Homo sapiens: one gene and its partners. The protein of the gene in region 2 interacts with the protein of the main gene of each other region in a pairwise test. Each region holds a gene or a part of one and is shown on either strand. Other genes may lie near its edges.

Region 1 (3,746 bases), on a different chromosome or scaffold from region 2:
GGTCCAGATGAGGCCCAGGATCAGCTTCAGGTTCCCGTCCACGATGGCCTTGCTGTCTGTGAGTAGAAGAGTGGCCACGCTGGGCACACGGCTGTGCGGGAGGGGCCGATCCCAGGCTTTGGGGTCAGGGTCTGGCAGCACGGGGTAGCAGGGGCCAAGGAGGAGGTAGACACCCCCTCTTGGCCAGTGGTAGGATGTGGATGAGGCCCTCTCTGCCCAGGGTCCCAGGGGGTGTTCAGAGGTGAAGGAGACTTTGGGGTGAGGGCAGATACACACAGACACACACACACGATGCCAGCAGGGTATGATTACTGCCAGAAGCCCTGGGCCCAGAGGAAGGGCAGAGGGCAGACCCAGCCTGCAGATGGGCAGCTCTGGAGAACAGCTGGACAGTGTCCACAGCTGCCAGAGCAGGGGTCCGCCACACACCTCAGGGGCCTATGGGGAACCAGGAGGAGGAGGCTGACTCCAGCTGGCCCAGAATCCAGGGCCCATGACCTGGAGTGGGGCTGGGGCTGAGGAAGAGGAAGGTGGGTGGCCCTGGGTGGTTGGGAAATACAACTGTTGTTCCAGGGTGGGTGGGGTGAGGCAGGGGAAGTGGGGGAGTTGGGCAAACGCCCTTTGGGTGAGGGATTGTGACCCCCGCCACCACCCCCACTTCCTCTACCACCTCGAAGACTCAAGCTTGGAGTTGGGAGGCCACAGGCCTAGCCAGGGGAGGGGCCCAGAGCCCAAAGGAACCAGCAGTTGGGCCACATGGCCCTGACTCACTGGGGCCCATCGGGAGATGCCGGGGTGGCAGCAGGAGACACTGGGAACCCCCTTGCCACCCACTGCCTGACCCACTTGCCACCTAACGGGCCTCTGGGCCTCGGCAGGCTCGCCACAGGGGAAGTGGTTAGGGCGGGTCCCTGACACCCCCCATCACCATGGCAACCCTGCTGGGCTCTGGGCCCCACCCAAGGCTACTTCTGGGTCTCAGGCTCAAGGCAGGATGGCTCATCTTTAGAAGCCCTGTCAGCCTCCCCCATAATCAGACAAAATACTTCTCTGGTGAGTCAACTAGGGGGCGGGCCTATGAGGAGGGGCTGGGCTGTCCATGGCAGCTGCTTCCCAGCCCAGCAGGCAGCACCTGGAGGGCCAGGTGAGCCGCTCAGAGTGGCCTCCCCAGTTCCCAGGTTGGTCCTGGCCCCACGAGGCTGCCTTTCACTCTCCCCAAATGGCAGCAGGGAGGGGGACTCGGAGAGGACCAAGGGTGCAGGGCCAGGGAACAAGGCCAGCCAGGGCTTCCCATCAGGCCCCCACCCCAGTCCAGCCTCAGACCCCTCAACGACCCCCACACGGGGAGCAACCAGGCCCACCAGGTCCATGTTAGGCCAGCCTACTCCGTCCCCATCCCCCTCCCAAAAGAGAGAGGGAAGGACCAGGGCCCAGGGCTGGGAGACTGTCTGGCTGGATGGCCCCGCCCCATCCCACCCCCCTTTCCCCAGCCCCTGGGCCAGCCAACCCCTCCCTCCCCTAATCACTGCTGCTTTCCAACATTTTTTTGCCTTATATGGCAAAGCTCTGGGAACTAGGCCTGCTCCAGCCAGCTCACAAGGAGGAGGGGAGCTGGGAGGAGGGAGGAGACCCCCCCTAAAGAGCTGGGGTGTGGCCCGCCTCCCCACATCCGGTCGCCCCCCCTACCATCCAGGACTGAGATGACTCAGCTTGGCTAGACTGAGGCTGGGACTTGTGGGGGTGGGCCTGCCCCTCGCCTCAACTGGCATTCCAAAGAAAGAACTTTGGTTCTTGGGATCTGCCCTCTGAGTGGCTGGGGGAACCCAAGTCTTGGTCCCTCACTTTCTTGGGTTCAGCAAGGGCCATTCCAGGGCTGCAGGGTAACTGGAAGGCCTCTCAATTCTGAAGAAGAGAAGACTCATCATCCCTCTCCTCTCCCTGTTCCACATCACCCCCGAGTCACCCATTCTGGGGCCTGCCCTCTCATGCAGCCCCTATCTTGAGAACGAATTGGGCTGCTGCAGCAGGCCTGGTCAATGCCAGCCTCTCCAGTCCAGTGACACAGACACTGGGCTGGCACAATGCACGCTGGAGCATCTACCAACCAACTCCTGCGTGCTACACGCAGAAAAGCAAGGCCTACATGGAAGCAAGAGTTTGGCCCAAGATGAAGAGAAAAGTTGGCGTCCAAGTAGTCTACAAGCCAGGTCTCTCAGTCAACCACGCCCAACTCACCCCGGGTGCAGTTTTGCTAACTATGCTTCTTTCTGGCCCCCAGGTTGCCTGTGTGTGTGTGGGGGGGTAGATCTAAACTGGTGGTTGGAGCCATCTCCGATGGGCGACCCATCCTCCAGGGACACAAAGAGCCCAGAGCCCCAGACAATGGGACGCACGAGCTCCAACCCACACTTCAGAACCAACGGGCCTCTGAAGGCCAGAGGGCCCTCTCTAAACAGCTGTGGGGGGAGAGCCCGGGCCTCCTCCTCCTCGGGGACGGGGCGCAGGGCCAGGAGCCTGCCCAGTGCCCGACCCCCCAGGCCCACTCCCACCGCGAGCACAGCCGCGGAGGCGCGGCCTGCGGAGGATGTGAGTTCAGCCTGGGCGCCGGCCAGCCGGGGCGCAGCGGGCGGGGGCGCGTAGCGGTTCGCACGCCCGGCCGGCCAGCCAGCCAGCCCGCGCGCCTTTGTTCTGCAGGCCCGCGTGGAGCAGAGCAGCCGGAGGCCTCGGGAGTTGCGCTGCGGCCCGGAAGGGGGTGGTTTGGAGGGGTCCGCCCGGGGAGATGGAAGGACGCACGGAGTCCCCGCCCCCGCCCGCCCGGCGCTTCGGGGCGTCCCTCACCGATGGACACCAGTTTGATGCTCTCGCGGTCCAGGAACTCGAGCGCCACCGACACGTTCTCAAGCTGCATTTGGCGGAAAGTGGGCCGCTGGTTGTGCTTGCGGTGCATCTTCTTCTGGCTGAGCACCTCCAACAGCGCGATAAGCCGCAGCCCGTCGCTCAGGTCCGTCTGCAGGTTGGCGATGCGCTTGCTCACGCACTTCAGGTGCTCGTTGCACCAGCGCGTGAAAGTGTTCTGCTGGATCTTCTTCCACGGCGCGTCCTCCGCCAGGTCCTTCTCGGTGGCCGGCATCTCGGCGTCCCGCGTGTCGACGCCGCCGCCCGGAGCCGCGCCTGCTGCGCTCTGGCCCGCCCGAGAGTGGGAGCTACTCATTTTGAGGCGCGAGAAGCCGGGGGGGCGGTGCTGCAGCCTCGGCGAGGGGACGGCCCTTTAATTAAAGTCGCAGGCACCTAGGCGCGCGGGAGGCGAGGCAGGGAGCAGAGGTTGCGCTGCGGAGAGAGCGAGCCCTTTAAATGCGGGAGGAGGGCGGGGCCAGAGGGCGGGCCTCCTGCGGGGAGGGGCCGTGGGGTGGGGCTTCGAGGGCGCGCCTGCCCCACCCCGCCCCGCCCGTTGGAATGCCCCCACTAGGCCCCCGGGTTCGGCTGATCAGACGCGAAACCCGGGCTCCAGGGTGGGTCGCTGGGCAGTGGGGTGGGCAAGGATGCTCCCAGCCCCGCAGCCTCGCGTTGGCGCTGCAGGAAACGCGCCCTAGAGCGAGGAAAGGCTGAGCAGTGTCTGGCGCGGGACTGCTTGGCCTGCAGCCGGCGCGCCTTACAAGGGACTTTCCTTCCCCAGGGCCCCTGCGGGGGGTGGGGTGGCTCTCTTCCCTAAGTCACTTGGGCTCTGCCCCGTCCCTGCACATCCCTAC
Region 2 (3,746 bases):
CTTCTGGGAGCTGGGGTGTCCGCAGCTGGCCTGTGAGCACTTTTTGGCACGGGAGCTTCAATGGACAGCGGCGGAGCACAGGCTTTGGCTTCCAAAGGTCTGAGCTCGATTCTTGCTCTGAAACTGGCTAGCCATGTGAGTTTGGACAAGGCCCTGCACCTCTTTGACCCTCCGCTTCCATAACCGTACACACAAACCTAACTCGCTGGACTGTTGTGAGGACCCATAAGGGAAGCATGTGACTCATGGAAGCAACAAAATATTAGCTCCCTTCTCACTCGCCCCTCTCACCTCTGCTGGAATATCCCCACCCGCACCCACCACCATTAAGGAAAACCTACAATTTTGCAAGAAGCCTTTGTGTCTCATTTGCTGTGGTTAGAAAATTCCACTGCAAGTGGTGAGGAAATTTCCTACCTGGAGCTACCCCTTGGGACTCCCAACCTTTTTGGAGCTCCCAACCTTTTCCTCTTCCCCCTCTACCTCCCCTTTTCTCTACACCCCCCACCCCCACCCCCACCGCCGCCTTTTCCCAGCTCACTCTGTCGCCCAGACTGGAGTGCAGTGGCTTGATTTCGGCTCACTGCAACCTCCACCTCCTGGGCTCAAGCAATTCTCCCATCTCAGGCTCCCAGGTAGCTGGGACTACAGGCGCATGCCAACACGCCCGGCTAATTTTTGTTTGTTTTTGCAGAGACGGGGTTTCACCATGTCGCCCAGGCTGGTCTCAAATTCCTGGGTTCAAGAGATCCTCCCACCTGGGCCTCCCAAAGTGCTGGGATCACAGGTGTGAACCACTGCGCCCGGCCCTGGGAGATTTCTTAGCTGTGACCCCTGCACCACATTCCAAAGCCCTCTGGGCCTCCACTTCTTCATCTGCGAAATGCAGGACAATAACAGTATCTTCCTAGCAGGTCAGTGTTAGAATTGATGGAGTTCACGCACCCGAAAGCCTGAGCAGAGAACTCGGCCTGAACTAAGCGCTTCATCCTCAGCTGCTAACTCTCAGGCAGACGTCGAGGCTGGAACCCTTAGAGCCTGGAGCTTTGTGGGAGACCCGCAGCGGCACCGGTTGAGCCGAGCTAAAGCCCAACATTCTTCCTACCTCCCGCGGCGAGCCACTCCCTAGGTGGCTATTATGCCTAAACACTGAGTAAACCGCGCGGCCCTCGGGCGGTCGTTTCCAGCGCCCGGCGCCGCCGCGTGGCGAGTCCTGACCACCGCCTCCTCTCCTTCCCGGGCCCGAGGACACCCCGGGGGCGCGGCGCAGGATCTGGGAACGCACGCTTGGGAGGAAAAGGGCCGCGATGGACCGATCCCCCAGGAAAAAGAGGACTGAGCACATGAAGCGAATCCTTTGGGCAGAGCCCTCTCTACCTCCGCCTTAGCATCGCCCAAAAGAGAGGCCTGGACTAGGGCCGAGGAAGGCTGGCGATTAGACTCTGGGAAGAACTTCCGCTCAGCGAGTCAGCAGCGCGGTCTTAGCCCGAGGCCCAGGGGAGGCCAGGTCCCTTCGTCCCCGAGGGCCGGGACAGGGAGGGCGCGTTCTGCCCCGAGGCCTGGCGTGCCCTGCCTGGCTCAGGCTGGAAAGAAAGAAAGCGCGGAGTCAGCCTGGGCTGCGGCGGGCGCGGGGTGCGCGCCTCAGCACTTTCTGTTGTCTTTCCCGCGGGCTGGGGCCACAGCGGCGGCTGCGGGAGAGGCCTCGGCTCCCCAGCGGAGACCAGAGCCGACCGCAGCCTGCCTGCTGACTCAGCGACCCCACCCCCGAGGGAAAGGGTGCGGACAGGGGGACAAGGCCCAGGTATAAAGCTCGGCCCGCCCGGCCGCGCGCAGCCTCGCAGCCGGTCCATTTCCCTCGCGTGCCGCGCTCACCCACCCGGTGAATGCCCTCTGCTGGGGTGGGGAAGGGAGGGGAGCGCGGGAAGACTGCGAGCCCCTGGCAGCCGGGTCCAGAGCTAGGCCGGGTCCAGCCCCCGGGTTCTTCATCCGCTACCCAGGTTGGGCAGGCTGTGTGTGGCTCGAAACGGGGCTCTTGAGACGCTGAGCGCGTGGTGCCACCCTTCCTGTCCGCAGCGGCATGAGCAGCGCCCCCGCGCCGGGCCCGGCGCCCGCCAGCCTCACGCTCTGGGACGAGGAGGACTTCCAGGGCCGTCGCTGTCGGCTGCTAAGCGACTGTGCGAACGTCTGCGAGCGCGGAGGCCTGCCCAGGGTGCGCTCGGTCAAGGTGGAAAACGGCGTGTGAGTGATTGCCTGGCCGCGGCTGGGCTGGGTTGAGGGGCGCTGGGTTCCACCGGCCTAGGCTCAGAGCCTCAGCCCCCTGTCCTGTGAGCCCTGGAGAGACCTGCCAACATGGGAAACCCCATAGCCTCCCCAAAATTCCCCACCCATCGCAAGATAAATCATGGGAAACTGTGTATTTTTGTGCTAGCTAAAGAGACACAGGCGAGAAGCGACCCCTTGAGGGTCCCTATGGGACCCCACCGTGAAGGGGTTTCTAGTGTACTTACACCCTTCCCAGAGTTTTTCTCTGTGCAAAATTAGAAGGCTCTGCACTTGGCTTAACAAAAGAAACCCAATCCCTTTCCCTGGCCCCACCCTGGTCTCCCAGAGCCCAGCTTTTCCCACCCTGCCGCCCCCTACCCCTGCCCCAGCTGAGGTCCCAGTTTCTGCTGTGATATTCGGGAGGGGTCCTCCAATGTGTCCCCATGCAAAGGCCTAAACCCTTGAGGCAGGAGCACTGGGTCGGGAGATCTTCATAACCAGGAAAACTCTTTCCCAACCTGGGGTCCTTGAGGGGGAAGCCTGGGCGCCTCAAACCCCAGAAAGCAGCAGGTTTTGGACCTTTAGTTCCGAGAGGGGCTGGATTGCCATACAATGGGGGTGTCAGGGGAAGGGTTTGGGGTTGGAGAAAAACATTGTGCTTCTCAGTCTTTTCAATCATGGCCGGCAAGGGGGAGGGCAGAGAGGGTGCGGCTGGGGCAGATACCTCCCAGCTCTTCTCCTTTTCCAGTTGGGTGGCCTTTGAGTACCCCGACTTCCAGGGACAGCAGTTCATTCTGGAGAAGGGAGACTATCCTCGCTGGAGCGCCTGGAGTGGCAGCAGCAGCCACAACAGCAACCAGCTGCTGTCCTTCCGGCCAGTGCTCTGCGCGGTGAGCACAGCCCACTTCTCCTCCCCTGCCTCCTAGCTCCAGGCCCTGGCCTCACCATGGCACCTAGAAAGGCTGTTCAAGCCCTGCATGGGGTGTGTGTAAACAAACTCCGAGATGGGTGGTAGTAGCATTATTTCTCAGAATCAGAAGGGTGTCTCCAAGAAAGTTGGGATTGTGGGCGTAGGCCCGGAGCCCAGAAATCATCACCACGGACAGCGCTGAGGCCATCCCAGTCCTGAGTGCCCAGGGTTCCCCCACATTCCATCGTCCACACGTGTGAGTGAGTGCCTCTGTCGTCACACAGCCATGTGAGGTCGGGTTGACTGCTGTTAGCCCCATACACAGGTGTGGAAATGGGGCTCAAAGGGACAAAGTGGCTTGCCCAGGGTCACTGAAAAGAGTCAGTCTCAGTGTGTTTGTGTGTGTGTTATTGTGTGTGTGAGGGTGTTGTTAATGAATCAAATACACCGAAAGAGAGGACCTCATTTTCCATTTGTGCCGACCTGGTTACTAGTAGGGCTGGGAAGTGGAGAGCAGAGGACCCAGCCCAGGCCAGCCCAATTCTTCTGTTCCAAGAGGCTGAAGAACCCTGCA
Region 3 (3,746 bases), on a different chromosome or scaffold from region 2:
TGAGGTCAGGAGATTGAGACCATCCTGGCCAACACGGTAAAATCCCATATCTACTAAAAATACAAAAATTAGCCAGGCACGGTGGCATGAGCCTGTAGTCCCAGCTACTCAGGAGGCTGAGGCAGGAGAATGGCTTGAACCCGGGAAGTAGAGGTTGCAGTGAGCCGAGATCACACCACAGCACTCCAGCCTGGGCAATAGAGCAGGACTCTGTCTCAAAAAACAAAACAAAACAAAAAATTAAGAAATATGGTCTATATTGTAAGGCATTTTCTGTGGATCCAGGCCTGTTATGTAATTAGGACTGGGGTGGGAGAAGGACCGTCTTGTCTTATATTTAGACTTCTGATCTGATCACTAAATAAGTTACAGGTATTTTGATGTTGTCATGTTTAAAGTGTCATTTAAAATAAACAATTGAAATATTATCAATTTGGTAATCCCTTTTGTGGTTTTATATGTTTTATATATTCATTTTATAATACACTAAAAGCCTCACAAAATGGCAGTAGACTGCAGTTCCTAACCCCTGAGGGGCCGTGTTTCATGATGCTATTATACACATCTAAAACTAAAATAAATATTAATGAAAACGACGTTTTCCATATTAAGTGAAGAGAGTTAAAGGTACATATTTTATTTCTATAAAGTGACAAACACTTGATCGCTGTAAATGTGAATACAACTTTTATTTTTAAACCTTTCAAGGGAATTAGATCTATTTTCCTGCTGTTTCCAAGCCTTCGGTAACCCTCTGAGTGTGTTTGTATTCACTAGGAAGGAACATTTCTGTGGAATTAATCAAATGGAGAATTCAATGTTCCTTTTAGATAATTTTGGCCATGTTCCATTGCGAACTTTCTAGTCTGCATTTCATCTCTTTCCTGGGAAAAGACCCACATATTCCAAATCCTCTGCCTTTTCTCTACTTGTTAGTGAAGAACAATATAGCAAAACTGCTATGTACAGAATTAATAATCATGTGCATTCAGCAAGGCTCTCTGCTGGGAATTTCATCACTAGAATAAGGCAAAACGCATGAGAATAAGAGTTCAAATGTAGTCAGTACAAACTAGTATCAAAAACTCTGTTGTATTATCGTTAATTGCTCCTCTGATTTTGCTAAAATTAAAAGAAAAATTATGTGGGGGGAGAATTAGAAAATATTCAAAGCTCCTAATATATTCCAGTAAACCCTGAGATGACAAATCTCATTTTCCAAGGAAAAGCAGTGCTAATTTTTTTTTGTAACAACAAAGAATTCATGTTCAATGCCTAATTAAAACCTGGAAATCTATATGCGTTGTTTCTTTTTTTTTTTTTTTTTTTTTTTTTTTTTTTTTTTTTTGAGACGGAGTCTGGCTCTGTCGCCCAGGCTGGAGTGCAGTGGCACAATCTCGGCTCACTGCAAGCTCCGCCTCCCGGGTTCACGCCATTCTTCTGCCTCAGCCTCCCGAGTAGCTGGGACTACAGGCTGTGCATTGTTTCTTAATGGCTTTCCAAATTTACAAAACAATCAGAGTCCTTATCTATCACTGGCTTTATGTTTCATATCAGCTTTTTTATTCATCTTACAGAATGCATTTTGCCTTGCAGATGAATTCTAGCTATTTTATCCATAGCTATAATGGAATAGCTGCTGCTATTATTTATGCTCTATACATGTTACTTTGGCCCTAAAGCCTGAAGGAACCCATTGTTGTTTTCTACCACTGATGATTTTATCTGCACTTCTGCATCTGGGCAATTGTTCACAATAGTCACAAAGACCTAGCACTTGGTCTGAGAATCCTACCTGCTGAGGAGTTTTATTTGGCCAGTTTGGTAAAGGACATTTAAATGAAGATATCTAAAGCTAGCAGAAAACAGAGATTTTGGAGTCATCAGCACATTTGGGATGGTGGAAGCCACAGCCAAGGAGGGGATGTAGTACACGAAGACCTCAGGGTAAATGTGCAGAGCCCTTATTAGGTATTCAGTAAAGACTTGAGGAGTAAAAGAATGAACTAGAAAATGACAATGTACTGATTATTAATTTATATTTGAGTAAAAAAGACTGTTATTTCCATCAAAATCTGCCTCTAGAATTTTCCAGCAAGAAAGTAAGTGATGATAGTTATTAAAAGCCCTAGCAACAGTTTATATCCTTGAGGTAAAACCATCCTGTTTCAACAGATACCATATTCTCATTGAATTCCACATTAGCTTATGATAAACACAAGATGTTTTTCATAATCTAGATGCAGGTTTTATGCATTTTTTTTTAGCAAAACATACAGGGAACTGCCAAGATGGGAGAGTAATCTTTCCTAAATCACTCCAAATGTCACCATGACTATAAGCATACTTTCCTAAATTGGGGGATTTTTGCTTAAGAAAATATAAGTTCATTCAAATGCTTCACTCACATTATATTAAGGTTTCATCATTTATCCTATAAACAAAATTCTGCTTTTATATACATTAATCACTTTGTCATTCATAGGATCAAACCAAAATGACAACTGCTCACTTTTACTGTCAATACTGCACAGCATCACTTCTTGGGAAGAAATATGTACTAAAGGATGACAGTCCATACTGTGTTACATGTTATGATCGTGTATTTTCTAACTATTGCGAGGAATGCAAAAAACCAATTGAATCTGATTCTAAGGTAAGTCTCACCTCAATTTACAGAATTACTGCCTATGAACAGCAAACAAGTGGGTTGGAGTGCCTCTTTTCATTTAGTGTTGACTTTCAACACTATTTCTCTGCTACTGGATATATAAGGATCTTAAAAGTTACCAGCAGTCAAGCTCCAGCCACTACACTTAGCACTATGAAATACAACATATGCTTAATCCTCACATGATCTTCTAAGGTAGCTGAGAATGCTAAAGATTAAAGGGGTTAAGCTATTTGTCCAAAGTTACACAGCTAGAATTTTCCTGCTGTTTCCAAGCTCTCAGTAACCTTCTGGGTGTGTTTGTTATTTCTGGAATGACAAGGGTATAAATAAATGCATAAAGAATTGAAGTTGAAAGGATTCAAAATCTGTTTTCTGATGTAAAATCAGCTTCATTTCTTACTAAACCCTATTGATACCTCTCACACCTACCACCCCTTCCTCCGACATGCTTATTCTTTCTTTCTTTCTTTCTTTCTTCTTTTCTTCCTTCCATCCTCCGATTATTTTCCTCTCTCTTTCTCTCTCTCTCTCTCTCTCTCTCTGTCTCTTTCTTCCCTCTTTCTGCCTTTGTTTTACTTAGGTGATGTTATTTTTTGTCTGTTTAGTTACATCTCAAAGAGTAATAGAACATTGCACCCTAAAATTTTTAAAAATCATTCCATGAAAAACCTCTATTATAGTTTATAAAAAGAATATAGGCAAATTTTGAAGACACAGCAGAGAATGTATTTGTTTTTTCCCAGCTGCCTTAAGTGACCCACCAAGAAAGCCCTGGGCTCTAGCTCTTAATTACCCCAGAGAGTCTCCTCTCTATGGGTAACAGTTTCAGTAACAACTTTCCCTCACGCTACTAGCACAACCTACTGACATGAGAGTCCCAGGAGTGTTCAGTTTTGTTTCATAAAATGGCCTGTATTGTCACAACCACATTTAATTAACTTTTATTTACTGTCTCAAAGGATCTTTGTTACAAAGACCGGCACTGGCATGAAGGATGCTTCAAGTGCACCAAATGCAATCACTCTTTGGTGGAAAAGCCTTTTGCTGCCAAGGATGAGCGCCTGCTGTGCAC

What was found.
Region 1: the proteins of CRYBA2 (region 2) and FLNA interact in binary tests that used the Homo sapiens proteins (3 or more experiments, as listed by UniProt).
Region 3: the proteins of CRYBA2 (region 2) and FHL5 interact in binary tests that used the Homo sapiens proteins (3 or more experiments, as listed by UniProt).

Annotation. Positions count from the first base shown.
Region 1 is NC_000023.11:154,368,035-154,371,780, forward strand, and holds part of FLNA (filamin-A), read right to left. Parts: intron 3,328-3,746; 5' UTR 3,212-3,327; coding exon 2,839-3,211; intron 57-2,838; coding exon 1-56. UniProt on the Homo sapiens protein: Promotes orthogonal branching of actin filaments and links actin filaments to membrane glycoproteins. Anchors various transmembrane proteins to the actin cytoskeleton and serves as a scaffold for a wide range of cytoplasmic signaling proteins.
Region 2 is NC_000002.12:218,991,508-218,995,253, reverse strand, and holds the start of CRYBA2 (beta-crystallin A2), read left to right. Parts: upstream 1-1,831; 5' UTR 1,832-2,077; coding exon 2,078-2,238; intron 2,239-3,010; coding exon 3,011-3,152; intron 3,153-3,746. UniProt on the Homo sapiens protein: Crystallins are the dominant structural components of the vertebrate eye lens.
Region 3 is NC_000006.12:96,601,117-96,604,862, forward strand, and holds part of FHL5 (four and a half LIM domains protein 5), read left to right. Parts: exon of another isoform or gene 1-36; intron 37-2,485; 5' UTR 2,486-2,497; coding exon 2,498-2,656; intron 2,657-3,633; coding exon 3,634-3,746. UniProt on the Homo sapiens protein: May be involved in the regulation of spermatogenesis. Stimulates CREM transcriptional activity in a phosphorylation-independent manner.